Homo sapiens: one gene and its partners. The protein of the gene in region 3 interacts with the protein of the main gene of each other region in a pairwise test. Each region holds a gene or a part of one and is shown on either strand. Other genes may lie near its edges.

Evidence for each region.
Region 1: the proteins of SUSD3 (region 3) and TMEM47 interact in binary tests that used the Homo sapiens proteins (3 or more experiments, as listed by UniProt).
Region 2: the proteins of SUSD3 (region 3) and TMEM11 interact in binary tests that used the Homo sapiens proteins (3 or more experiments, as listed by UniProt).
Region 4: the proteins of SUSD3 (region 3) and TMPRSS4 interact in binary tests that used the Homo sapiens proteins (3 or more experiments, as listed by UniProt).

Annotation. Positions count from the first base shown.
Region 1 is NC_000023.11:34,626,481-34,633,614, forward strand, and holds the end of TMEM47 (transmembrane protein 47), read right to left. Parts: intron 4,012-7,134; coding exon 3,833-4,011; 3' UTR 595-3,832; downstream 1-594. UniProt on the Homo sapiens protein: Regulates cell junction organization in epithelial cells. May play a role in the transition from adherens junction to tight junction assembly.
Region 2 is NC_000017.11:21,197,290-21,204,420, forward strand, and holds the end of TMEM11 (transmembrane protein 11, mitochondrial), read right to left. Parts: intron 1,552-7,131; coding exon 1,035-1,551; 3' UTR 665-1,034; downstream 1-664. UniProt on the Homo sapiens protein: Plays a role in mitochondrial morphogenesis.
Region 3 is NC_000009.12:93,061,675-93,069,097, reverse strand, and holds part of SUSD3 (sushi domain-containing protein 3), read right to left. Parts: intron 6,738-7,423; exon of another isoform or gene 5,683-6,737; intron 4,612-5,682; exon of another isoform or gene 4,489-4,611; intron 997-4,488; exon of another isoform or gene 947-996; intron 64-946; exon of another isoform or gene 1-63. UniProt on the Homo sapiens protein: May play a role in breast tumorigenesis by promoting estrogen-dependent cell proliferation, cell-cell interactions and migration.
Region 4 is NC_000011.10:118,072,834-118,080,371, reverse strand, and holds the start of TMPRSS4 (transmembrane protease serine 4), read right to left. Parts: upstream 3,295-7,538; 5' UTR 3,070-3,294; coding exon 3,067-3,069; intron 1-3,066. UniProt on the Homo sapiens protein: Plasma membrane-anchored serine protease that directly induces processing of pro-uPA/PLAU into the active form through proteolytic activity.

The DNA of each region.
Region 1 (7,134 bases), on a different chromosome or scaffold from region 3:
TGAATGTCTAATTTAAATTGCTTTTTCACATATTCTCACCATTTATATACATCAAAGGGTGATGAATTTTGACTTTATCAGTTTCTTCACACATGCACATTGCACACACACATGCTCATGCACACACGTTCATGCACACATACTCATGCACACATACACACTGAATTTTTAGTCTTTCTAAGAGATAATACAGACAAGCTGGCTTTAACACTCTGCAAACGTTGAAAACTACACAAAGAACAAAATACCATATCAAACCCTTTGACTAATCATTTCCAATTGTGTGATTAGAGTCGGAATAAGGGAAGCCTGCACTACATCTCCTTTGAGTACATTTTAAAACAGAAGGTTATAAAAGATATTTAATAGTATCCCTTTATCACTGACCGTGCAAAGGCTGTGGAGAATAGAAGGATCTTGGGAGATAATTTGTAATAAAAAATTTAAAAATGTTTTCAAGTAAAATCAGCATGTCATATTAAGATGTTTTCTAAATAATATATATTTTGAAGGAGAAAATGTAATGAATATATGTAATTTAGAAGCGTTGTCTAAAGAGTTTACACAACAGAGACGACACAAATTCAAACCACATCCGTGAAATCACTTTTATTTTTATTTTTTTCCACATAGATGACTTCATGTCAACTACAAAAATCATGAAATGAAGAACTGATTGTGAAACTGCAAACTCAAAATCACTGGAGTGATAAACAGGTTTTCCCCCAGATGACTTAAAAAAAATAACCAGGATACCATGAATTCATGTTTAAGTAGTAAACATGTCATATATTTAAAAATAATAAATATAGAATAGCAGTACAGAAACTAATAGCATAAACAGCATGAAGTATATTTTACTTTTAAGACAGATGAAATTTCTAGGCACAGCTTTAGGCATTAAAGAGGACACAGAGGCATAGGTTAGAGTGCACTGCTCTGTACAAAAATACAGTCTGAATAAATTACATTGCTAGCCATACAATTAGACGTCACTTACCAGTCAGTTCATTGCATGTTTAATAATATACAGGTACATGCTAATCCATATATATCATTTATATTCAAACACATAAGTCTCTCTATATTTATGTCTTTAAAATTTACATGTTGAACTTACAAAAAGCTAAATAATTGTGCAAGAAATCGGAATAACTAGCCCTGCTGAGTATTTTATGCTATATGTGTGTGAGTATATATATGTGTGTATATCTATATCTATAGATGTAGATCTATATCCATAGATATCTATCTAACAATGGGTTTGTGGCTAAAAATTATGCTTAAGAACACATCTAACAAACCTAAAGCTGCAAAGACATAATGTTAATGTAGGTGAAAATTTCACTTGTGTTTATTCTGATAGACAAAATTGTATTTTAGATGAGAAGCAACAATTTTCATGTTGTACTGAGATTGTTAGTAATGAAATACTTCCAAATATTAGTGATGGTAGAAATCTAGTGTAGGGCTCTTTGCTGAGAAGGGAAAAAAGTCACATAAGAAATCTACTTTTCAGTAAACTGCAAATATGTGTGCTTCAACCTATAACATATTCTGTCACTTTGAGCTTGTCATATTGACAGAGAATGAAAACTTGATAAGACTCGAGATGTGATGATATTGGTTTAACAGTACACTGCATCCTCTACTAGGACCAAGAGAAGTGCCTCATTGGTGTCAGCACCAAAGTACTATTCTTTCATTATTCAGGAATAAAGAGATCTCAGAACAGAGAATGTTTAGTTGCTGAAATCCCTATCCAAATATCATATTTCTCATGCTGCTCTGACAATATGCAATTAACTGCAAGACACTCTGCCCCAGATTTTACTATTTCTCAAAAAATTGCTTCAAAAGACTCTATAATACTATCTTTCTGGAGAATTTCCACTCATAATTTCTAATGATTCTTTATAGAATCATATATTTTTATAAAGGTTTCTGTCTGTGATGTATTTATTCGCTTTTGTCTATCATTGCTAAAGTAAGACTAAACCTGGTACTTCATATTCGTGATTTTATAGAAAATTCATGTGTGTTTTCTAGCATTTGGATAATAAAATAGGTTTTTTTTTTTTGGCTGTTGTTTTTGGCAACCATTCTTAAGACAAGCTGAAAGAAGAACTGTGTTTTGGGAGGTAAAACAAATTATTAAATACTATCGATGTGGTCCTGCTCTTAACAGATTTTGCAATACAGTAACATATAGCTACTTTTAAAGTAATTTTTCTAATGCTTCTTTCTGCAAGAGGGCCAAAACCAGAACATACTGTTTTAGTGTCTTTGTTAACAAAAATAATTATTTATAACTTTTATATTAGAACTGTATATTTGATATAAAAATATGTTTATAATTAAGCTATCCAAATTTGTATATTAAACAGAATTAACACAAGTTTGCAGCATGAGATTAGTTGCAAACTTATTCCCTATTATTAATACTTCCTTCCATTGAACAGTCAGTAAGTAATTCCCTTAACATAAATCCATCCTAAGTGTGTGCACAAATCGGTTAGCCCATCAGTTAACTTCAGAGGACCAGGTGATAACCAGATGAATTCTACTCCTCTACTGAGACATTTAGATATTTATATAAATCTATCGCTATTCCTTTCTTAAAAAAATGAAGACATTTAAAATACTTGCAAAAAATAGCAGCCTTCTATTTTAATGAATTTTACACAAAATGATCATCCTAATTGCTACTCTCTTTTCAACTACAGTGCTTACAGAGAATCATTAATTTTCAGATTAACACCATTTCAATTTTTATTCTTAGGCAACTCTATTGACACTTTCCAGTGAAACAGTAAAGAACATAGAGCAAAAGCTTTAAGGTACCATACTTTTGTATGGTAAATAAGTATGAATACCAATCTAAGCCTCTTAACAATGTGTACAAGGTTAGTGCTCAAACCACTTCACTAGAGTAAATATTAATTTTACGTGTGATAGGCAAATGTATGTGGAGGGTTAGGGAACAACTTATTACCATTTATACTAATGGTTCACCTTCTATAAAAACAGTGAAGCTTGTTACATACGCACACTTGTTTGCTGCAATGTTTGGCAAATGATTTAAAGGGTACAAAAGCAACTCATGCAGATTTCTTTCTGTTTGCCCCAGGAAAAACAGAGATCCTCAATTTTTCCCCAGTCTAGATAGGGCTGAGGCACCAATTTCTAACCACATAATGAGAAGCACATGTCTCCAAGTCTTGACTCTCTTCCCAGGGAGACGCTGATTGCCAAAGCATAACCTCCCATTAAAAAGAGTGTTCCTGAAGGTGGAATGTGTATCATTAACCAGTTACATTCACAACTCCCATTAGATGCTGAAGGGCAGTTCATTTTTCAAGGGCTCACTCAAGCAAATAACCAACAGCCAATGTAGTCATTGGGTAGGATAAGCAGGCGGTAAGGGCTCTAACAGTGGAATCCTTGTCAGCGCAAAGGAACTTCTAAATGTTGCTTATGCCAACTGCTCCCCTGCAGGCAATAGGAGATTGAGGCAAATCTCATTCCAACTAGTTTCTCACAATGGTTGCTGTCATATAGACCCTTCATTTGTCAAGAAAAACGATATGAACATATTGGAAGTTTGCAGCATTTGCCTATGTCTAATCAGCTCTCTTAATTTGTGCAGATTTCTAAAATGGATGTAAAAGCTGGTTATGATGTTGACAGCCAAAAGGCAAAAAAGATTAAATCAACTGAGCAAACTGCTTGATGCTCCACAAGTGTTTTAGAAAATAGTAAGTTAGAAAAGATGCAGACGTAATCCTTTTGTTGGATGGTGGTGGTTGTTTTTACTTTGAGACTATTGGTTCTAGTAGTAGTCTTCATAGTTCTTAGGGTTCAGGCAATAAAGGATGGCACCCCCAAACGAAAATATAGTTGCACCCCAGGCCAGGCCATAACCCCAGTTGAACTCATGGTAAATTTTCAAGCTCACAGTTTCAATGAACTTGATTGGGTAAAGGACCAGGCTGCAAACCTGTAAAACAACTGAAAGAAAAGCAAATCAAAATTAGAAAATGTTATTTGCAGCAAATAAAATAATATAAATATGTAACTATATATGTATGAGAGTAACTTTGTAATCAAATATACATAAAAGCCAAAAATTTTAAAGATGGCTTGTTCTAGATGGTATACTTTAAAATACTAATAATTTTTTTGTTTAAATACCTTTTCCCAATATATAAGAATTATCCTATTAATTAGTAAATCATTATTAGTATAGATAAAATAATTAGTGCAATATAATAATTTATATGAGCATACAAAGTAGTGATTTTCACCTTAAAAATATAATTATCATTATTATTATGGCAAGTAGTACTAGTTAAACTAAATTGTGCCACTAATAAACCGTATAAGTAGCTCCTCAAGAATAGTGACCCCAGCCAGGTGCGGTGGCTCACGCCTGTAAATCCAGCACTTTGGGAGGCCCAGGCAGGTGGATCATGAGGTCAGGAGTTCGAGACCAGTCTGACCAACATGGTGAAACCCCGTATCTACTAAAAATACAAAAATTAGCCCAGTGTGGTGGTGTGCACCTGTAATCCCAGCTACTCAGGAGGCTAAGGCTGGAAAATCGCTTGAACCAGGGAGGGGGAGGTTGCAGTGAGCTGAGATCATGCCACTGCACTCCAGCCTGGGCGACAGAGCCAGACTCTGTCTCAAAAAAAAAAAAAAAAAAAAAAAAAAAAAAAAGAATAGTGACCCCAATGCCAACTGAAACTCTTGTTATTTATTTATGCTATTAAGGAATTAGGAAATTCAAATTAATTTCTACTGATGCAACTGGTCATCCTGTGAGTGATAATGTGCTTTTGATGTTGTTGCTGCTTTGCAATACTAACTCAGCCCAATATGCCAGAAAGTCTCACCATGATGTCTTTGCTTACATTACTCTGATCCAAAGCTACTTTCATTATTTTCTTCTCATCCACTCTATGCCTCTTGTCTTTAAAAAGTGGCTTAAAAGTTATTAACAGATGATATTTTCATATCTGTTTTCCACCTACTTTCAAAAAAGAATTAAGTCGATAAAGGCAAGAGAGATAATGGTACAGGAAAACCTAGGCCAATTATGGCTACTGTAACAGAGGTCAAAACTTAGCTCTTAGTCCCTGGTTAGATCCTACTTCTGTCAGGGCCAAAGGGGAAATATGATTAGTCATACCGAATAAAATAAACCAAAATAATCAGGAAGGGAATGTTTATTTTGTTTTTGTTTTGTTTTGTGTTGTTTCTACTATCTAAAATAAAATGAAATTTATGTTGTGGATATGCACAAGACATAATGTCTTCCACTTAAAATTCTTAACTTCCTATTAGATCAATTATTATGTAATTTTATTTTAATTAGTTTAACTACAATTAGTTAACTACAGCTTCATTCTCTACCATAGGACAGCTTCCACCCTCAAGAAATAGACAATCTTTTTCCCTAAAAAATACAGAGTACAGTTATATTTAACAGGGGTTGGCAAACTACCAAATCTGGTCTGCTTTTTGTTTTTGAAAAAGTTTTACTGGAACACAGCCACACTCATTCATTTACGTATTTTCTATGCAACAATGGCAGAGTTGAGAAGCTGCAAAAGAAACCACACAGCTCACAAAGCCAAAAGTATTTACTTTCTTGCCCTTAACAAAAAAAGTTTGCTAACCTCTGATATATGAAATAATTTTAGGGGGTAAAATAATTTTTGTTTAATTCATCTGAAAAGAACAAAAATGTGAATAATTAAAGAAAAGGAGGGAACAAACTGACATAGTAAAACTATATACATAAATAGTTTTGATATCGCTTATATGTTTTAAAAAAGAACACTAGGATGGATAGAGTGTTTAATTAAAATGGAATTTTATGTTTTAAAATGTACTCTCATCTATTTTTAGCCCATGTAAAAGATTATTACCAGTATGATGAAGATTCCTAGAAAGTCTACATAACAGTCATCTTTCTCTCCCATAAAACTGATGAAATACAGCAAATTCATGAGGAAATGATTCCTCAAAATTTCTTTCTATAAGGCTCTGGCTAGGTGTCAAAGGACCGACCTAGAACTAGATATAAAAACACCCAACATTTCTGCCGTGTAGCACAACACTGCTGAGTCAGCACTTTGCCTACCATTACTACTGAGAGTGGATACACAAGTAAGTTTGTATAAGAGGATACCCTACTGATATCCAAAATAGAAATCAGACCTTCTCAGAAAAGGTTTTGGTTGTTGTTAGGACTCAGCTGACGGCATATTGTATGACCCACACTTCATCTATTTCCAGTTAGTAAGTGCTAAAATGTGCATTAATTTTAAAAAAAGCCCAGTTGGCTCTTTGCCTTTGTGAGGAAAAGGGAGCTTTCATGTTTTAAATGTCTTAAAACTAACAAGAAGTCAATTACTATCAACCATAACTACAGAGAAGAAAATTCCAAAGTTGCCAAGTACATTTGAAAAAAAAAAGGCACTTCTCCTTAGGTTTCTATACTCTGTTCACTCGTCAAATCTGTACTGATCCTACCAGGATATGACTGAAACAAGAATGTGGGTTAGGTATAGTAATTCATTTACTCATTCAATAAATGCATCCATTCAATAAATATCTGAATGTTTCTAAAGCGATACAGTTTAAGGCATTATGCTATCAAAAGAGACAAAGCTGCTACTCTCATGGGTAGTCAGTCCATTAGTAAACAAATATAGAATATAATGTCACATATTGCTAAGAGACAAGAAATGCAAGAAAGCAGACAGAACACAGGGATGAGGGCTGCTCTTTTAGATCAATCGTGAGAGAAGGCTGCTCTGAGGAGGAGATATTGAGCACAGATCTGAATGAATTGGGGGTGCAGAACAACATAGTGGGGACTGAGCATTCCCACGTGAAAGGCATAGGCACTGCAAAACTCCCATCACAGGAGCATATCTGGTGCACTGGAACAGAAGTCAGAAGGCTGTGATTGCAGTACAGAGAGCAGGAAGGGAGAAGCATGAGATATGATGGAAGAAACAGCAGGGGCCCTTCGTGGTTCATGGACAGCCTGTGAACCATATCTGGGGTCTAGATTTTATTCTACGTGTGACAGGCAGCTGGTAGAAGAGTTTGAGCAGA
Region 2 (7,131 bases), on a different chromosome or scaffold from region 3:
TTTTTAGCTCATCAGCTGTCGTTAGTGTATTTTATGTGTGGTCCAAGACAATTCTTTTTCCAATGTGGCACAGGGAAGTCAAGATTGGCCACCCCTGCCTTAGAGGAAATGTGGCAGGTGACACAGTCTACCTTCTGGTGTGAGGGAGAAGCACCGGCTTGGCTCCTGTGGAACAGCGAGCACTGAGGCCAGGGGGTGCTTCCAAGATTGCTCCGAGGGCTCTTCTGTCAGCCTAGGGCAATGGGTTAATAAACTCATGGTCCACAGTAGGAAGAGTTTTGGTGCTTCAAAGAAAACACAGGTGTTCAGATCTCTGAAGAGCGATCCTGGAGCCCAGAGTTCCCCACGTGAACTCAAGTGGACACCCAAAGGCCTCCAAGCCTCGTCACCTTATCCTACCATGTTCCTGAACAGCATGGTGGCAGTGATGGCCTTCGGAATGATGAGGCCAAGGTGAGCCAGGAGACTGCTCCTGGGCGGGGTTTGGCCCCAGGACTACCTTGGATCTAGGCTTGTCGTCGCTGTAAGTGGTAACACTGGGCCGCAGCTAGGAGCAGGGCAGGGTGGCTACCATGGCACCTGCTCCTTCCATGTGCAAGCCGCCACCCAGAGCAGATGTGCAGCAGCAGCTGCGGGCAGTCATGGAAAGAGAGAACAGCGGGAGTTGAAATTCTCATAATTTTAATGATCAATAGCTTCTGGTGGGCTCTGGATGGTACAGTTAAACAATAGACTTAAAGACCTCCCCCAAAGCACGTCCACACCCCCTCGGCAGCGTCTGCCTCCATCAGCATTCCACTGCCCAGTCGGACTTCCACAGCCTCAGACCCCCCTCTTGGGTTATGGAAATCCACATCTTAGTGTAATGAGCTGAAAAACCCTGGGTACACCCGTGATCTGTTATTTTTTAAAAATAACAAATACTAAGCCAAACACCTGCCCAGGCTCTGCTGCCTCACAGAGTGTGGCGATCTGAATACTCTGTTGTCTCTTGTGGGCCGGGTGGTTTTGCTTCGCTCCCTGTTCTACTGAAATCATACGGCATAGAGTTCGTAAATCTTCTTTACACAGTACACCAGGGCGGCCAGTGCTATCGTGTTGTGCAGTCTCTTTCTGTGCAGGTCGTCCTTCCGGACCAGCACCACCGGGGTGGAGGAGGTGAGTGTGTGCAGAGGCAGGCGCGACAGTTTATAGGCGTCGTACTCCACTTGGTACTTGCAGCAAGGGTCAAACTGCCAGGAGATCCCATAGAGGGTGCAGCAGGCCAGGCTCAGCACACCAGCGGGCAGGGAAATGTAGTGGGAATAATCTAAGGGCAGCGCCAACGGGGTGAAGAGGCAGGCGGTGCCCGCCAGCACGGCCGTCTTGTGCAGGCAGTTGCCCACGGTGATCCAGCGGGCTGTCTCGTCGCCAATGCGAGTGGGCTCAATCACAATGTACTTGTACTGGGCTTCCAGGGCCTGCTCCAGCTCGTACTCAAACTGGTCTTGGGCATTCTCCCCATTGTAGATCTCATGCACAATGTAGCAGTCTGTGGCCGACAAGCTCACCCTTTTGATGGAGGGGGCAGGAAAGGGAGAGAGAGAGAGAGACAGGATGATTAGGCTGAGGAGCACTTAACTGTGTTTCAGCGCTGGGGGAGGTCTGAGCCTGCACTGCGGAGAGCACATCTCACTTGGGTCCTCATCTCCTTTAAATCCCAACACAAGATAATCAGTAAAAAGGATTTTTCCTGAAAATAGTGAAATAAAGCTGGGTGTGGTGGCTCACACCTGTAATCCTAGCACTTTGGGAGGCCGGGGGGGCGGATCATGAGGTCAGGAGTTAGAGACCAGCCTGGCCAACATGGTGAAACCCTGTCTCTACTAAAGATACAAAAAAAAATTAGCCAGGTGTGGTGGCGCATGCCTATAATCCCTGTAATCTACTCGGGAGGCTGAGGCAGGAGAATCACTTGAACCTGGGAGGCGGAGCTTGCAGTGAGCCGAGATCGTGCCATTGCACTCCAGCCTGGGTGACAGGGCGAGACTCAGTCTCAGAAAAAAAAAAAAAAAAAAGATATAAAAAGGCAGGAAAAGCAGTGCCTCGACGTTTAACATGACAAACACAGGCCTGGTGGTTAGCCTAAGGCTGTGGACCAACTGATCTGAGTCAGCAAAGGAGCCTAAAGGGGAAAGAACGATTCGGCACAGAATCACAGGAGCACACACGGCAGCAGAGGGCCAACAGCCTGAAAGCCATTCTTAGTTAATCAGGGCAACTGCAAGAGGATTCTTCACTGGAAACCACAGACCTCAGGACAGATAATGCTAAGCCCTTGCCCTCCGCACGTTTCCTAAGTAGTCATCCTGGGCCTGCAGAACAGAGGCAGAAAGGAAGAGCTTTGCCTTGGGCGAATGAAATCCAAACTCCTTTGGCTCTCCTGGAGGCCAGGCTGCACAAGCCCTGGGTGCCCTTCCTGGGCCGGCAGCAGCCCCCAGCTCCTCCCCGCTGCGGAGGGGAGAAGAGGAGACCCAGGACACTAGCCCACTGCATAGGAAAAGCGACCCTTTCCTTGAATTAGGAAAAGACAACGCTTCAAGAACAGTAGTGGGCTCCAAATTTAGTAAGCAGGAGGGTCAACTGAGGGGCTTCAAAACATCCAGCCCAGCAATGCCACCAATTCTGGCCCTGTAGGCCCAGGCCCCTGCACCACCGGCAAATGCCACTCATTTGCATAAGAAACACTGCCACGGAGACCACACAAGGGGCTTTCCCCCCCGGGACTGGGGATGCATGTCATGACCCCAACCAGCAGGAGAGTAATCCACCACACGGAACGCTCAGCTCTGCAGCAAGGCCAGACGGCAGCCCGGCTGCAGCCCCAGCAGTGACCGTGGGCCAAGCTGCATTTCAGGCAGTCTTGCTTTTCTTGGTTTCAGGCCTCTGCGGTACAAATTTCCCACCCAAAGCAGAATCTTCTTCACCTGTGGCGGGCAGGCCTGAAGACAGGGCTATCCATGCCTTGTCATCTTTCCTTGGCTGGTTTCAGCTGAGACAGATCTCTCTGAATCTCCGCACCGTCACCCCACATCCTAGTTTTCCGTTATCTGCTCATCTGCAAGAAGTCTTTATCTGGGCCTTGACGGGGACACTGCTAGACATAGCTCTTGAGGCTGGATCAAGTTTTCCAACTCATGGCTCCCAAGGCTGCACAGAGCCATGTTCTGTCACATGCCTCAGGGAAAAGCTGCCCCTTCCCTCAGCACACCCTGGTCCCCAGGATGGTCGGACCCATCTGACTAAAGGACACAAGGCTCCAGGGACCTGCTGGTCACTGCTCCCCTGCTGGAGTCCATGCCCTTCCAACTGGGAGGCTCTGGAACACTGTACCAGGCAACACAAGGGTCAATGTGGCCCATGTACCTGAAGCTCCGAATGTGCCTGACAGGAACTAGCTTCCTTTCATGGCTAACGAGAAGCACAGCCCTCAGTGTGCACAGACGCGAAGGTCCCGTCCGCCCAGCCTGTCCTGGCAGGCACACCTGGCTGCGGTGCAGAGGAGAGTCATGGGGAGCTGAGCCACCTGGCCATTGGCCGTAATATGGGAGTGACGAGTGAAGACATTCATAACAAGCCACCCCAGAACCTCAGCCCAGCATGAAGGTAACTCCCTCCAGCCTCCTTCAAAGATGGGAGCAATTCCAAGTGAAGGATGGTGGAAATCGGACTGTCGGGAAACTTCAAGGAAAAAGAACAGGCAATCGTAGTTCTTCCTACTACTGAGACTCCTCCCAGCTCAAAGCTTTCAGCAAACAAATAAGCAAACCTAACAGGCAGGGTTGCATTCTGGTTGGATAAACAACTAGTTAACGATCTCATGTGGCCACATTAAAGATGAAAGTCATTGGTAATGGGCTGACTGTGCCCCCAAGCATGGGGACCCTAACCCCGCCCCTGGGTGGGAACCACTTTCATAAAAGGCACTGGCTTGGACTTGGGCAAACGGAACTCTTTATCCTGAAAAAGTCACTGTAACTAAGCCAGGCTAAGGCAAAGCCTCCTAATTCAATCATAGGCCCTAATTAAACGGCATGCACTGGGGAGAAATCAGTGCCCTGAGGGTGGGACAAGAGCCTCCTAAACATGGGTTGCTGCCAAGCCACCTGTGACTGTGCCAGTGTCACGGCTGCCTCGCCAGGGATGAAATGATGAGCTGTTACTGTAAGACTGCACGAGCAGCTTATGAAATGGGGAAAGGAGGGTTTTCCTTCTAAAGTTCTCGGTGGAGTTTTTCCATTTGGTCTTAGAGGAGAGGTAAGGGAGAGGCCAGCTGTTACTTCCAGGTAGGATTCAACAGTTTTTATTTTTGAGACAGGTTCCTGCTCTGTCACCCAGGCAGGAGTGCAGTGGTGTGATCTCTGCTGATGGCAGCCTCGACCTCCCGGGTTCAAGAGATCCTCCCACCTCTGCCTCCCGAGTAGCTGGGACTACAGGTATGTGCCACCACGCCTGGCTGCCTGGCTAATTAAAAAAATTTTGTTGTACAGATGGGGTTATGCCATGTTGCCCAGGCTGGTCTCGAACTCCTGGGCTCAAGTGTTCCACCCGCCTTGGCCTCCCAAAGTCCTGGGATTAACAGGCATGAGCTACCGCATCCAGCCAGATGCAGCATTTTAGAAGCTACCTACAGCAAACAAGCACACCCAAAGCAGGGTCTTCACTGGCGCTGGAAAGCTGAAGGCCGAGCAGTGCCCCCACGTGCTCAGATGAGAAATGAGTGGCGGTGGCGCAATGGGCTGGCTGTGGCCCTGGGTGTGCGGGGAGGGGCGGGGCCTCCACTCTCAGGTGGGAGCACTCCTGGCCAAGAGAACTCCCTTCTGGTCTCAAGTCCATCAGGCAACAGGAGCAGAGAGGCCAGATAACAAGGTAGGGGTGGAGGACCAAATCGTGTCCCAATCTTGAGACGGAAATGGAGTTGCTTCCAAGTCAGCTGTGCATCCTACTGACTGTCAAAGCCAGGCCAGGGACACCTTGGGGCGGGCACCAGAGGCGGGCTTCCTCCCTCAGGAACACTCAAAGCAAAAGGGAGGTGTCAAGCTGGGGTTACACAATGTTCTCGCCAACACCCAAATCCACCCTAGTGCGGTACCTTTCTCTGCCCAGCAGGCCAGCGCCATCCTGAATGTAGTGAAAACCACTGTTGGTCCCACAGAGGAAATTCCAGTGGAAACCCCGGTCCTGGAACCGACTGCCCCATCTGGAAACACAGCAGTGGGCAGATCCCACCCCCTCACCCCCTCCGGCCCCCCTGCAAGCCCAGCTGGCACCCACATCCACCCAGACCCCTCTGCAGGCTCCATCGCTTGCTGGGACGGATGGGTGGGTGCGTCCACGAGTCCCAACCAGCCTGGAAGCAGCGAGAAGCCAAGGCCCTCCAGGCTCCCTCCCACCTCACTGCTGTTGCCAGGTGTGGCCCGCCCCCCAGCACAGGGAGTGAGGAGACTGGGCATCCTCTGCCCTCGGCTGTGGGCAGTCCTGTGAATGACACAGCCATAAGCAAGCACGTGGACATGGGGGCACTCGCCAGCACACATCCTGAGATGGTGGCGTGGGTCTGCCCCCACCTGCCTGTCAAACCATGGCCCCGGCCTCCTGCAGCCTCGGCGTCTTCATATGGGCTGGGCACTGTTGCTGCCCACTGTCTAAGACACCTATCCACAGCAGAAACACAAAGGACATAAGCCACACTGCCTTCAAACAAAGGCAGGGTCCTGCACAACGGCGCTGAGGCCAGAGGCTCACCAATTCTGCTTTTAAAGCCAGTTAGGCAAAGGGAATCTCGGTTTCCACTGGGAAAGGACAACACGTGAAGTCTAGGGAAGTGGATTTCTAGGATTCTATAAGGCAACAGACCCTATATGGAGACGGTAAGGTTCAAACCAAAACACACACAGACGCACCCAAAGCCGCAGGATCCCTCCGTTGGAGCTCACCCGGCCACGACCAGGCAGTCAGCACTCCAACTTCCTGGTACACTGGTGGGAGTGGGGTGCTGTCAGTGCAGACACAGGTTTTTTAGCTGCCACTGCTGGGCCCTTGGGTTCAGGTCTGCACTGCTGACAGGGACTGCTGCACTTCTCTTACTTCAGAAATTCGTGGCCATGACCAGGTGCGGTGGCTCACGCCTGTAATCCCAGCACTTTGGGAGGCAAAGGTGTGCAGATCACTTGATGTCAGGAGTTCGAGACCAGCCTGGCCAACAAGGTGAAACCGTCTTTACCAAAAATTAGCCAGGCGCGGTGCTGCACACCTGTAATTACAGCTACTCAGCAGGCTGAGGCACAAGAATCACTTGAACCTGGGAGGCAGAGGTTGCAGTGAGCCAAGATTGTGCCACTGCACTCCAGCCTGAATGACAGAAAGAAAAAAAAGAAAAAAAAAGAAAAAAGAAACTGCCAAGTACTCCCAGGAGACAGCCACGTCCAGCCAGCTCCTGACCACCCAGCAGCCACCCGTATATGGCTTGCTTCTGCTTGTGGGTCAAACAAAACCTAATGAAGGAAAGAACCCAGTCAGAAGGTTATCTCAAACCACTGCAGAGCATCACCAGCTGCCCCCTAACTGGTAAGGCCATGGGCTTTAGGAACTGGGTGATCTGAACCCTGGTGCATGGGAGATCTTTTTTTTTCCTTTTTTTTTTTTTTTTTAAATTATATGGACTTTTTTTTTTTTTTTTAAGTAAGAGCTAGTTGGAATCTTTTGAGCCCTGGGCTTCCTAAGGGACTGTATTTTTGCTTTTCATTGCAGGTGTGAAATGACCAGTAAGAGAGCAATTAATAGAGTCTATGTTTAAAAAAAAAAAAAAAAAGAAAGAAAAAGTGGCCAGGTGCAGTGGCTCATGCCTGTAATCCCAGCACTTTGGGAGGCCAAGGCAGGCGGATCACCTGAGATCAGGAGTTCGAGACCAGCCTGGCTAACACGGTGAAACCCTGTCTCTGCTACAAATACAAAAATTAGCTGGGTTTGGTGGCACGTGCCTGTAATCCCAGCTACTTGGGAGCCTGAGGCAGAAGAATTGCTTGAACGCAGGAGGCGGAGGTTGCAGTGAGCTGAGATCATGCCATTGCACTCCAGCGTGGGCAACAAGTA
Region 3 (7,423 bases):
CACTTCATCTCATCATGTAGGCATTTTATCATCTCACATCATCGCAAGAAGGGTGAGTACCGTCTATTAAGATATTTAGAGAGAGAGAGACCACATTCACATTACTCTTATTATAATATATTGTTATAATTGGTATAACTTATTACTGGTTATCATTAATCTTTCACTCTGTTCAATTTATAAATTAAACTTATCATAGGTACATGTGTTTAGGGAAAAAACAACATATATAGTATCTGAAGTTTCAGGCATGCACTGAGGGGTCCTGGAATGTATCCCCCTTGGATACATTGTATCTACTATATTCACTGTATCTACTGTATTCATTGAATCTACTGTATTCTCCAAACTGATATACAGATTCAACAAAATCTCTATCAGAATCCAGCTGCTTTCTTTCCAGAAATCAACAAGCTGATCTTAAAGCTCATATGGAAATGCAAAAGACCTAGAATAGCCAAAACACTCTTGAAAAAGAACAAAGTTGGAGAGTTCACACTTGCCAATTTCAAAATGTATTACAAAGCTAGAGTAATCAAAACAGTGTGGTACTATCATGAGGACAGACATAAAGGCCAACAGAATAGAACTGAGAGTGCAGAGGTAAACCCTTACATTTATAGTCAAATGATTTTCAACAAGGGTACCAAGACAATTCAATGGGAAAGGAATAGTTTTTCAACAAACTGATGCTGGGACAACTGAAGCTGGACCCCTAGCTCATACCATATGCTAAAATTAACATGAATCAAAGACCTAAAAGTAAGAGCTAAAACTATGAAACTCTTAGAAGAAAACATAGGGAAAATCTTTGTAAACTTAGGCAATGGTTTCTTAGATCTAACACCAAAGACAAACACCAAAAGAAAAATAAAAACAGGACTTCATCAAAATGAAAAATGTTTGTGCTTTAAAGGACATTCAATAAAGTGAAAAGACAACTTACCAATAGGGAGAAAATACTTGCAAATCATGTATCTGATAAGAGGCATGTGTCTAGAACATATAAAGAATTATTACAATTCAATTAGAAGACAACAAAATTGAAAAATGGCCAAAGGATCTGAACAGACATTTCTCTGAAAAAGATAAGTTAGCAGCCAATAAGCACAAGAAGATTCTCAAAATTATTAACCTTCAGGGAAATACAAATCAAAACCACAAGGAAGTCTGTCAAAAAGATAGGCAATACCAATAGCTGGCTGGGCGCAGTGGCTCACGCCTGTAATCCCAGGACTTTGGGAGGCCGAGGTGGCTGGATCACTTGAGGTTAGGAGTTTGAGACCACCCTGGCCAACAGGGTGAAACTCTGTCTCGACTAAAACTACAAAAATTAGCCAGGCGTAGTGGTGGGCCCCTGTAATCCCAGCTACTTGAGAGGCTGAGGCAGGAGTATCACTTGAACCTGGGAGGCGGAGGTTGCAGTCAGCCGAGATCAGGCTACCGCACTCCAGCCTGGGACAGAGCAAGACTTCGTTTCAAGAAAAAAAAAAAAAAAAGACAGACAATACGAAGTGTTAGGAAAAATGTGGAGAAACTGGCACCTCAGAAGCTACTAGTTTGGGAACAGAATGGTGCAACAGCTTTGGAAAACTGTCCGGTGGTTTTTCACACAGTTAAGCACAGAATTACCACATGATCCAGTAATTCCACTGCTAGGTAATCAGCCAAGAGAAATGAAAATACCTGTCTACACAAAAATGGGTACACGAATGTTCACAGCAGCATTATTTGTAATGGCCAGAGAGCTGAAACACCTAAATGTCTGTCAACCAATAAGTGAATAAACAAAATGTGGTTTATCCACACCACAGAGTACTATTAAATCATCAAAAGGCATGAAGTGCTGATCCATGTTACAACATGGATAAACCTTGAAAACACTGTGTTAAGTGAAAGAAGTCAGACACAAAAGGTCACATGTCATATGATGACACTCATATGAAATGTCCAGAACAGGCAAATCCAGAGACAGAAAGCAGATTAGTGGCTGTCAGAAGCTGGGGGAAAGGGAAAACTGGGAGATGGCTGCTAAGGGGTATGGGATCTTCTTATGCAGTGATTAAAAACATTATAAAATTGACTGGAGTGGCTGGGTATGGTGGCTCACACCTGTAATCCCAGCACTTTGGGAGGCCAAGGCGGTCAGATCACCTGAGGTCAGGAGTTCCAGACCAGCCTGGCCAACACGGTGAAACCCCATCTCTACTAAGAATACAAAAATTAGCTGGGTGTGGTGGTGCACGCCTGTAATCCAGCTACTCAGGAGGCTGAGGCAGGGGAATCGCTTGAACCCGGGAGGCGGAGGTTGCAGTGAGCCAAGATTGTGCCACTGCACTCCAGCCAGGGCAACAGAGTGACTCCGTCTCAAAAAATAAAATAAAATAAAATAAAATTGACTGGAGTGATGGTAGCACATATCTGTGAATGTACAAAAGCTACTGAGTTCTATGATTTAAAAAGGTAAATTGTATGGTATGTGAATTATGGCCCAGTAAAGCTGTTTAAAAAATCAGGGGGAAAATATGTCAATTAAAGAAATACACATTTAAAACTGAAGATACTTGGCCGAGCACGGTGGCTCATACCTGTAATCCCAGCACTTTGGGAGGCTGAGGCAGGCGGATCATGAGGTCAGCAGTTTGAGACCCGCCTGACCAATATGGTGAAAACCTGTCTCTACTAAAAATACAAAAATTAGCTGGGCGTGGTGGCGTGCGCCTGTAGTTCCAGCTACTCAAGAGGCTGAGACAGAAGAATCCCTTGAACCTGGGAGGTGGAGGTTGCAGTGAACTGAGATCATGCCACTGCACTCCAACATGGGCGACAGAGGGAGACTCCATCTCCAAAAAAAGAAAAAGCAACTGAAGATACTTTTTTTGCTTCTTATCTCTGTCAGGGTTAAAAAGATCAGCCCTTCAGATTGAGGAGGCTGCAGAGGAGGGGTGCACAATTTCTAGGGGCGGTACACAGAGTGGGGAGGGCCTGAGGAGCTGCCCTGCCCTTCAGGGGGATGGAGGGCATGGTGGGCAGGACTGAGATCAGCAGGAGGCAGAACCTCCCAGGGATGCTGGGCGGATGACAGCTGACGCTGAGCATACCTGTGTGCCAGGTACAGCTCTAACCCCTGGCCTGGGCTATTTCCTATAACCCTGGGCTGACTCTCGCTGGCCTTGGGTCACCTAGCTCCCAGTGGCACAGCTAGGACTTGAATTCTGTCTCCAGGGTTGGGCTCTCCGTCAACTACCAAGCTCCATATCTGGAGACATCAGTGCAGGAATGAGTGAATGAATGAATGCAAGAACAAAGGAATGGAGGACTGGCAGCCTCACCTCACAGGCAAGAGTCGTGATCAGCACTCCCCAAGGGCCAGGGACCACTTTGCTTTTTCAGGATCTTGGGATCTGTATATGCACTGTCCTTCTGGCCAAGGAGGTGGCTATGGGATTCTGGAGCCCTGGCAGACACAGCAGGGCAGCCACGGGCTGGCCACGTGGCCCCCTCCCCAGGGCCGCCAGGCAGCCAACACTTCCCAGTCCTTAATTTAGAGCTGCGACTTCTGCATTCCTCTGTGGCTTCCCAGCCCACTGCGGCCCTTGCAGAGAGGAGGCCCCACCAGCCAGAGGTTTGGGAGTAGCCGTTGGCGGATGGGAGGAGAGGTTGGCGAGGGTGAGTGTGTCCAGCACCCACAACAGCGCCTGGTTGAGTGTCTGCCCAGTGAGAGGATGAATGGATGAACGTGAATTCATTCTTTAAAAATAAAACTAGAACTTCATTAGAATAATGAGATGCCTGGAGGGGTGGACCAAGGGATGGAGACAGATGTGAGAAAGCAGGCACAGCGAAATGCGAAGGGTGGAATCAAGCTGGTGCGTGTCCAGGCATAAAATTCTTTCAACTCTGCTGCACGTTCAAAAGAAAAATGCTGGCGGAAGACCTTGAGCATCCCCACTGCTGACATGTAACTGATCCCCTGGGCACATCCCCTTCCCACCCACCAGGGTCCCAGGGAAGGGGTGGCCATACCACTCCCCATCCAGGACCCAGACATTTAACCACTGCTGAGCGGTCTGGGCACTGGGCTGATCCCTAGGACTTATTCTACTGAGACTGTGTGTCACCGCGGGGACATAGCTTTCTCTCAAACAAGACGGATGTGACCGCCAGGGCCTCCCATGCACTCAAGGCAGCCAGGACCAGCTCTGGAGCCAGAGGACCTGGGTTTGAGGGTAGGCCCGGCCTTTCCAGAAGACCCCAGTCACTTCTCCACCCTGGGCCTGTGTCTCCACCTACAAATACCACAACAGGCAGGGTGGGGCGAGGACTGGATGAAATGATGATCATCCCAGCAAGGCCACCTCCACAGCTGACTTCCTCTAAGTGTGTTTTAGAAGGAGCAGCTCCTCCCCCTGCCCGCCCGTGTGTTGTGCTGAGCCCTGTGGGGAGCTCATGACTAGCCATGTCTGAGGTTGACCAGTCGGCTCTCACCTAGCTATGTCTGAGGTCGACCAAGGTCTTGTCTTGGTTCACACTTCATCTGCCAAAAGCCACATCCTGTGTTCTCAGCCGCCAGGTTCTGCTATAGTGAGGGCTCTTGTCCTCAGACAGCAACTGCAGGTGGTGGATTACATGTCACAGTGACAGGCATCAACAGCAGGCAAGCTGTTCCCAGCATCCCCTTCCCAGCATCCCCAGAGCCTGTCCTGCCTGCATCATTGAGCCTCACAGACGTGGGGGATAAAGGGTGAAGTCGGCTGGGTGCGGTGGCTCACGCCTGTACTCCCAGCACTTTGGGAGGCCAAGGTGGGCAGATCACAAGGTCAGGAGATCAAGACCATCCTGGCCAACATGGTGAAACCCTGTCTCTATTAAAAATACAAAAAGTAGCTAGGCGTGGCGGTGTGCACCTGTAGTCCCAGCTACTTAGGAGGCTGAGGCAGGAGAATTGCTTGAACCAGGAGGCAGAAGCCGCAGTGAGCCAAGATCACGGCACTGTACTCTAGCCTGGTTGACAAAGTGAGACTCTGTCTCAAAAAAAAAGGTGAAGTCACCACCCACAACCAAAGAAAGGGGACCAGCCAGCGAGGTAACACTGACCTACAAGAAGTCCGGGATGCGCCGTCAAATTAAAAACTCAAATAAAAGTATAGAACGATTTGGAATACAAGCCCAGTAAAACTGATGCCAGCCCAACTGTCCATGAGCAGAGAAGGATGGTGCCTGGTGGGGCTGGGGGGCCTTAAACGCAGTCCTGGCCTCAGACCCTGCATTTGTAGCCAGCTGACCAGAAGAAGGGTCTCATGCCCAGGTCCTAATGTAAGTGCACTGCTGGAATGGCTTTCCTTTATAAGTCAAGCAGAGGGTCTGGGGGAAGTAACTGGTAGGAGGGAGGGTAGGGTGAGTCCTTGCTCAAGGCTCACAGCCCTGACCTGCCTCCTCAGGGTGGCCAAGAGGTCCAACCTCCTTTAAGCCCTCAGCCAAGGGGGCACAGGGAGGCAAAGTCATGTTCCTGTGGCCTCTCTTGCTGCAGGGGCCACAGAAAGAGAAGCCACTGACCGGCAATGCCCCCTCTTAGCCCCCAGTTGGGTGGGCAGGCTTCCTGGAGGGCTAACCAGTAGGTTCCTGGGGTCTGATCCTGACAAGACCCATCCCAGCAGCAGGTCTTGGACCTGAATTTCTCACCTGGCTCAGCCTCAACTTCCCCGTCTGCAAAACTGGTGACTTGCCCGCCTGGGGTCTGGGAAGAGCAGGACTGCCCTATGGAGATCTTGGAGCAGGATCTGGTGCACAGGATCACTCCCTAGGTCAGGGCTTGAGCAGCCCAGGACATGAGCCCTACTGGGGCCCTGGGCCTCAATCCCCAAGGTCCATGGAACACAGGGAAACTTCAGCCCTTAGCCCTTGATCCCCAAGGTCTGCAGCATACAGGGGACCTTCAACCCTCCAGGCCCCAGTGGGGTCTCCTGTACTCCTTTCCTGAGCCTGGGAGGCCAGGAAACACTTTCTCTGGGCTGGCTCCATTTTCCAGATGAGGAAACTGAGGCCCACAAACCTGCCCAAGGCCCCTGGCTGCATGATGGCAGTGCCAAGAGTAGGAGGCTGGACTCCTGTCCCCTTGGGGTAGCCCTTTCCATAGGATTCACAGCGAACTCACAGCCAGGATTCCGTAGGATTCACAGCGAACTCACAGCCAGGATGGGGCAGGCAGGCAGCACAGTGCCAGGAGCTATGGTCTACAAAGTCTCTACCTGCACCCAACTCCCAGGGACATTCCAAGAAATCACCAAGGCATGAGGATGGAGCTGGTGGATCACCCTTGTCTCTAACCACCGCACAGCCAAGTCCTGCTCACACAGAGACTCCCGGACTCCCAGGGGACCCAGGGCCACCCCTCACTGACCTCCTGAGCCCCTCCCCATGCCTGATGCATGAGAGGCAGATCCCATCTGTCCCCTGTCCCCTCCCCTGCTTCAAATACTCATGAACTCCCAGCTGCCTGCAGATGGCCCTCCTGTGCCTCACCCCTGCAGAGGACCCCACACCCCAGCTGTCTTTGAGGATGTCTGTTCCCTAAAGCTGGAGGCAGAGGCCTTGCCTCTCTGGATCCGTCCTGCCCTCCAGCCCCATCCTACCCACCTGCTGTTCCCCAGCCCATGGTTGTGGCTGCCCTTGGTCTGCCAGCCTAGTGCTGGGGCATTTCTTACCTGGCACCCTTTAGATCCCTTTGCATGTAAATCTTAAAGAAGAGGGAAAAACAACAGAAAACGGATTTGATGCAAACAAGATACAAAATAAAAACACACGAGGCCCTGCCTGGCCCTCCCACGGCTCAGGGGCAGGTGGAGAGGACCAATGGGTACCTCAGGGCCACACCTGTGTGATGCCTGAGCGGCCCTCAGCCCACATGCCGCGCCTGCGCCTCTGCCTGGCCACCTGCTGCAGCTGCGCTTCCTCCCTCCCTGGCCTTATGTACGGAGGGGGCCAAGCCTGACCGGGTGGATTCTCATCCTCCCAGCCTGTGAGGCCAGCCGGGCGTCTGAGAACAATCCGTACTTGTTAATCTTTTATCTGGAACCTTGGACCTCAGGTCGGCCCCTCCATCCTCCCTCCTGGGATTCGCCACACAGCCCCTATAACCTGACCTCGCCTGCTGTGGGATTAAGTAACTATGTTCCCTTTTATGCTGGCTGAGGCTGTGGGAGAGAGTGACAGAGGCAGGCTGCTGAACCCAGTCTCACCTAGACTCGATCCCCACCTGCCAGTGAGTCCCTGTGTGACCTCAATCTGGGTCTCAGTTCCCCCAAATGTGAAACAGGAACCTTCAGGAGGAATTTCTCAGAGTTTAAAGGGGGTGACTTTTGCACACAGAGGTGCTTTGAGAACAGGACCCCCAAGACCCTGGCAGTGGGGACAGGCCTGGCCC
Region 4 (7,538 bases), on a different chromosome or scaffold from region 3:
CAGCGAGAGCCTGTTGTCCCTATACTACCACTCTTTCTTGCTGTTCACACATGCAGTCCCCTGTGTCTGGAGCTCCTTCCTGCTTTCCCTGCCTGGAGAGAGCCTGCCCATCCTTCAGAGTCCAATGCAAATAGTTTCTCTTCCAGGACAATTTCCCGACTTCCCTAGAGAGAATCTATTGCTTTTTCAGCTCCAGGGGTACCTTGTAACCACTGCTGGTGTTATACTTGTCACACTCTGTGTTGAGCACCTGCAGGGTGAAACCTAGGTATTGGGTCCTCCCAATCCCCAGCCCCATTTAGAGGCTGGCCAATGAAAGGGGCTGATTAAATGGTGTCTGGCTGGAGCTTCTTTTGGTGGGGGGGGAGTGGTTACAGTGACACCAGGCCCTGTCACCCAGGTGGCAAAGGATCCAGGAGAGCAGGCAAAGCAAGCAGCCCCTCCTTGCCTGTCTTGCCCTTTAGGACCTTCCCACTGCCCAGCTCAGTTTACCACCTCAGAGCCTAGGATGGCACTGCCAGGGCCGAGTGGGCTTCTGGATTCTGTGCCCCAGTCAGGGTGGACCCTGCAGTGCTCCCAGCACCCCGCTGCCCGCAGGCTGGCTCCTGACTGCCACGTTTCTGAGCCCAGCCAAGCCCAGCCAAGCCCCTTGACTCTGTACCAGGCTGGCACGGAAAACAGGAGGTGGGAGGGAGGACCAGCTTCCTCCAGAGCAGCCGGAAGCGTCAGGGGGTTGACCTCAGGTGTTAACACCCACGTCTGGTGGCTCAGGGTGCGTTTAGGTCTCCGGAACAGTAATGAGTCAAGGCCAGGATAACCAGTCCCAGGGTCCCTGACTTCCCTCCAGGCCTCAGCTATGGAGTAGTTAGCATGGGACACATTTCCTTCGGGGACAGGGCTTGGGCTCTGACCTCTGCCTGGGCCTGAGTCCCTGCTCCAGCTCTCCCTAGGAATACCCAGCTTAATGGGTTCTTGGGAGAGCTGTCATTAAGACGCAGCAGCTCAAAGGACCCTGACTGTCACAGAAAGGGGCCTGTGGGGATGGAAGGAGGTAGGGAATGGAAGGGAAGGGAAGGGAGGGCTGAGCCTGGGTGTGGAGATCCCATCCTCCCCTCAGGGCTGGGAGCTATGGCTGTCAAGGGTTATTAAGCACAGGCTTAATGACAGGGTTATTCAGCACAGGCAGTATAATGGCTAGCTCCGGGGCTAGAAACTTCCTTGACCACACCGTGGAGATTGGCCATGCTGCTGCCTTGCCTTTGGGGCCCCAGGCCTGACCTGACCCCTCCACCAGTGTTCCCACCTGCCCTCCCCCGCTCCTCCAGCAATGCCCAGCTCCTTCCCTGGTGGCAAAGGGTCTGTGTTGGGTGTACTACCCAGCTGTCATTTCCTAGCACAGACTCCTCTTTAGTCCTAAGTCCTTACATCTGTGCGGGGCTTCATGGTTTCCAGAACCTACTCACATGTATTAGCTGTGTAATCTCTGCGAACCCGGTGCATGTGCGTGGGGCTGTTGTGGGTCATATCGTTTCCGTGGGCAGGGGAGAAGGTGAGTCTCGGGAAGATGAATGCCTCAAGACAGCACAGCTAATCAGGGAGCTGGCCTCAGCCTTCTGATTCTGCAGTTAGTGACCTGCCCTAGAAATGATTCCCTTCTCTGTTGCTCCCCCAAGAGACACCCCAGGTCTCCTCAGTGCCTGCCACCCAGAAGCAGCTCACAGCTAGGTAGACTCCACAGCTGCTCTCCTCTCCTGGGAGCCCCAGGGGATACAGCGTCTCTGCACACAGGCCAAACTTTGGGGCGCCTCCTTGGATGGGAAAGCAGGAAGCTTGTGCTTTGATCCTGGCTCAAAGGGAAGCCCCTTCCCCTTTCTGATCATCAGCTACAACCGCACTAAGAATTGTTCTTGCCAGAATTTTCAGAAGAGTGTCGTGGGAAGTGCTCAGGTTGGGAATAGGAGACAATCACTCGAGGGGCCCCTGCAGGTCACACCCTTCCCCCTTGGACAGTGGCTTCTCCTTTCCTCTCTTCCCTTCCCTTTCACTTTGGTGGCTGGGCAATTGCTGCCTCTTGGCCAAGGACTGGAGAAGGAAGACCCCTGGGTTCCTCCTCAGACCCAGTTATTATCTCTTCCCCTCCCTGGCCCTCAGCTGTCCTCCTTGAAAGATAGGGTTGATTCTCTTTGCCCCAAGACAGCGAAGACGCTCCAGGTATTCAGAGGAGGAGGAGAGAGGGTGAGGGCATGAAAAGAGACCAAGTAAAAGATGACCACAAACACCCTAGATTGTTTGGAGGCATCTCTGCACTGTTTTCTTTTCCTTCTTTCTTTTTTTTTTTTTTTTTTTTTTTTTTTTTTTGAGACGGAGTTTCACTCTTGTTGCCCAGGTTGGAGTGCAATGGCACAATCTTGGCTCACCACAACCTCCGCCTCCCAAGTTCAAGCGATTCTCCTGCCTCAGCCTCCCAAGTAGCTGGGATTACAGGCACCTGCCACCACGCCTGGCTAATTTTTTGTATTTTTAGTACGGATGGGGTTTCACCATACTGGCCAGGCTGGTCTCAAACTCCTGACCTCGAGAGATCTGTCTGCCTCAGCCTCGCAAAGTGCTGGGACTACAGGCGTGAGCCACTGCACCCAGTCTACACTTTTCTTTAAAAAGAAAAGGAATCAGTTTCCCCAGGGAGTGGCAGAGGGCAACCGTGGCATCAGAACAGCCCCCTGCCTTGGAAAAATAGTGCCAACCTCTAACCAACAGACCTGGAGACATTGGGCAAAAGAACATGCAGGATTCAGGAAAGAATAGTCGGGAAGGACAGCCCTGGCTCTGTGCTCAGCTTCTTAGGTGAGCTGGTCCAAGGACCATGGCAATGGAGGAAGAGAGGAAGGCAGGTGGGTATGAGACGTGTACCGGGCTGGGGTGTGAGGGGATTTGGGTGTGGCCTCTTTTTTTAACCTAGAAGGTGTCACAGAATTCTCAGCTGATGGATGCTCAGGCTGCTTGAAGGGCCTTACATGGGGAGACCCACCCTTCCTGTGTCTTGGGAGCAGAGGGCCCCACACTCACCATGCTGGCTCTGTGATCCTCCCGGTCTCCCTGTAGCCTGGAGCTGAGATTGTCACCCCAAGGCAGCAGGAGGGCCTCCCCACACAGGTCCTGGCTGGCCAGCAGGTCAGAAGTCCCTGGTCAGCACTGGCTGGAGGAGGCCCGAGTGCAGGGCAGGCCTTGGTCCCTCACGCCCAGCATCCTTGTCCGCTGAGCAAGCTGCTGCCTCTCTCTGTGTATTCCAGGAGTGATTGGGGGACTTTGGGCAGCTTGATTAAAACAGCCCTACAAGTGAAGTTGCCAAACTGGAATGATTATGTGTCTTGTAACCTGACACCTATCTTAGGGGCTGGAACAACACCTGAAGTCATTCATGGGACCTTCGGCCTCAGAACAGGTGACACACCTAAGGCGTAACAAAAGCCTTCCCGCCTGAATGACTTCCACCCAACTGGGTGTTGGCTGAGGGTGATGCCAGAAGTTTCCGCCCCCCCTCCCCCTACCTTCTAGGTGCATGACTTCTCACTGTGTGGGTGCTTTGGTTTGGGGTTGTGGGAAGTTGGAGTGGTCTGGGGGTTGGGCGACAGGGTTTGCAGCTCAGTACAAAGAGATCATTGCCAGGTGTGGAGCAATAGGATTGGAAAGTCCACAGAGAAGGAGGGAGTTTCTTCTCTTAGGGAGGTAAGATGTACCCCCTTTCCCTGGATCCCAGAAGTGAAGCTGTCCTGCACAGAGCCAATGTACTAGTGCTTCCTGCCCCTGCCTCAGCAGCCGTTCAATATTCTGAAAATCACTATTGGTGCTCTGGCTAGAGCCCACGTCTCCTCGTCCACGGAGTCATTTCCTTCTTTCTTTCTTTCTTTTTTTCTTTTCTTTTTTTAAGACAGGGTCTCTCTCTGTCCCCCAGGCTGGAGTGCAGGGGCGCAATCTCAGCTCACTGCAACCTCCGCCTCCTAGGTTCAAGCAATTCTCGTGCTCCAGCCTCTCGAGTAGCTGGGACTACAGCCACCTGCCACCACACCCAGCTAAGTTTTGTGTTTTTGTATTTTATTTTATTTTGAGACAGAGTCTCTGTTGCCCAGGCTGGAGTGCAGTGGCGCGATCTTGGCTCACTGCAACCTCCACCTCCCAGGTTCAAGTGATTCTCCTGCCTCAGCCTCCCAAGTAGCTGCTGGGATTACAGGTGTTGTGCGCCACCATGCCTGGCTAATTTGTATTTTTAGTAGAGATGGGGTTTTGCCATGTTGGCCAGGCTGGTCTCAAACACCTGGCTTCAACTGATCCACCTGCCTCAGCCTCCCAAAGTGCTGTGATTATGGCGTGAGCCACCGCACCCAGCCCCACAGGATCATTTCTGATTCACGTTCTGCCACATCCTGATAGCTGGAGCTGCCCCCTGGCCAGGGGATGTGCAAGGTGAAACCTTACAGCCACAGATATTTTGCTGGGAGAGACTTGGATAATTGTCCACATTGTTCCCCCATTCTGTGGGCGACAAAACTAAATTCCAGAGAGGCAAAGTCAATGACCCAAAGTCACATAATGAATTAGTGTCTGGTTCCATATGAATCCAGATCTCCTTCCATTTCTCAGACCTGACCCTCCCAGGAGACCAGCCTGGGTTAGACGTGTGTATTTGTCCTTCTGTTGATAACGTGCTTCTGTGTATCAGCCCTTTAATTCTCCAACAACAACCCCAATATTTTGTTCCCATTTGTCAGCTGAGGAAACTATAGCCTATGGACATGAAGTAGTTTCGGGCAGAGTTGGGGCTGGAACCTGGTTCTCTTACTGGTTCACACTGCCAGGCTTGTGAACAGGCTGAATGGAACACAAGTGTTTGAAAGCCCCAGGTTCATGGTTTGGGATAATATGGCCCATGGAGGACCCCAGTGATGTCTGAGCAGGAGGAATACCGGATCTGTGTAATGGATTATTGGCCAAATCTCAGCTGATGAATGCAGTGTGGCCTTGGACTTGTCTCTGAGCAGCAGAGATCTGAAGCTGGCCTGCAGGGCTCTGGAGCCAGCACAGCCCCAGCCCTTCCTTACTGATGGCTGGTGGCCTTGAGAGTTGGAAGTCTTGGGCAGAGGCAAGAGCCTGTGATCTCAGGTGACCTCAGGGTCAGGGCCGTGATGGTCCAGGCAGGCACCTCCCCAGCAGCAGGGCAGTGAGAAGCCAGTGGGCCACTGGGAGCCACGTTTTCAGTTGTCTTGGTTCCTCTATGTGCCAGGCTAAACATCTGGCCCACAGGTTTGCATTGCTTTACCTGGTGCTCAGGTGATGAACCAGGAAAGAGGCAGCTGTCTGGGCATGAAGGCTGCTGGGCATGGCTGGTTGGAGGGATGATGACTCAGCCCTCCTGGCTTCTGCTCCCATTTGGGTCTGGGAGTTTGTGGAGAGGTCCGGGAAGAAGGCACATAAGCAGGACTGGGCAGGGTGGCTGTGATGCCTGCAGGTGGGGGTGAAGGTTTACAGAGGGAGGCACAGTGGCCTGGAGACAACAGAGGCCCACCTCTCCCAGGTGCCAGGGAAAACCAGCTGGACCAGAACCCACATTCTTTTTTTTTTTTTTTTTCTGAGACAGGGTCCCCCTCTGTTGCCCAGGCTGGAGTGCAGTGGTGCAGCCTCAGCTCACTGTAACCTCCACCTCCTGAGCTCAAGGGATTCCCCCGCCTCAGTCCCCCAAGTAGCTGGGATTACAGGTGTGAGCCACTATGCCTGGCTTATTTTTGTATTTTTTGTAGATACAGGGTTTCACCATGTTGACAAGGCTGGTCTCAAACCCCTGAGCTCAAGCGATCCACTCGCTCTGGTTTCCCAAAGTGCTGGGACTACAAGTGTGAGCCACCGCACCCGGCCCAGAACCCCCATTCTCCCGGAGGAAGCCTCAGCTCTCCCTCAGCCCTGTCCTGCCTGCTTCTTTCTCTTGCCCATCCATCTCTTTAGATCCTCCTCCTGTTTTTCCTCTCTTCTTTCCCTCCCATTACTTCTCTTTTATCTCTTCCTCTTTATTTTTGACATTTTTTTCTCTTCCTTCTTCCCTTTCCTTATCTGTTTCCAGCATGTGTGTCAAGATCCGAGGCAGAGTTATCATGAAACTCCTGAAGCTGAAGCTTCAGAGCCCCTCACTTGCACGGTTCCTTCCAGGGCCCTGGGAAAGGGCCCGGCAATATGTTCACACAATCATACGTTTTTGTAAATTTTGCTGAATATTTCTTTGACGTGCTTTTTCTTCAAGAAAGCCCCTCAAGAAGTGGCCTATCCCTGTGAGTGAAGGCCAGAGCCTTCCTCACCCAGGCTGGTCCCATACAGGTGACCTCAGTTTAAGGACCAACAGGTCTCGTCCAGCTGAGAGCTCTATGCACACCAGATTCTGAGAGGTGTCAGCAGCACTTTAAAAAACTTTGTTGTTTGTTTTCTATGAGGTTTCTGGACAATGGTCTGAGCTCAGACACGTTCTGCAGGAGAATATTATTTCTGTAAAGATGGTTATTTAACCCTCCTCCACCCCATCATGGCGGCGCTGCTGAGGGCTGACCCAGAGGCCAGGGGAACTCGCTGGTGTCCATGGGGGAGGTCCAAGGCCTATTGCCACAGCCCTCCCGCCTTGCACAGCACAGAGGCGGTCACCCCAGGGACAGGCAGGCACCCGGCTGCTCCTGTTGCCCTTCCTGGAGGAGGGGGCTGCCTCCTGTCCCTGCAACTGCTTTCCTTATGGGCCAGCCTGACGCTCAGACTTGTTTGAAGCTGCACCGGCAGCTTTTTTGTCTCTTTTCGGCATTCACAACAGCCGGGGACTTGATCTGGATGTATTTTAAACCACATTAAAGAGTCTGTTGCTTTTTGAAAAAAACCAAGCCCCTCAAAATGCATAAGCTTCAGGCCTCTCAAAACCTGAATCCTCCCTGGTCAAGAGCTTGAGCTCTAGTGGCCTGGGGTCCTGCCTCCTAATCTCAGCCACTAATGATTTGCGTAACCATGGGCATCTTATTTAATCCTCTTGCACGCCATCTTCTTCATCTGTAAAGTGGGGATAACAATACTTCTGACCTCATAGGGTTGTTATGAAGATTAAGAGATAATCCTGGCTGGGCGCAGTGGCTCATGCCTGTATTCCCAGCACTTTGGGAGGTCAAGGCAGGTGGATCACTTGAGGTCAGGAGTTTGAGACCAGCCTGGCCAACATGGCAAAACCTCTATTAAAAATACCAAACTACTCTACTAAAAATACCAAAAAAATTAGCCGGGCGTGGTGGAGGGTGCCTGTAATCCCAGCTACTCAGGAGGTTGAGGCAGGAGAATCGCTTGAACCCAGGTGGAGGTTGCAGTGACCCAAGATCTTGCCACTGCACTCCAGCCTGGGTGACAGAGCGAGACTCCGTCTCAAAAACAACAACGACAACACAAGACCTTCACTTCCATGTGAAGTGTTTGGTGCCTAAGAGAGATGTTGTAAATGGCACTGTTATCCCCATTCATTTCACAAAATG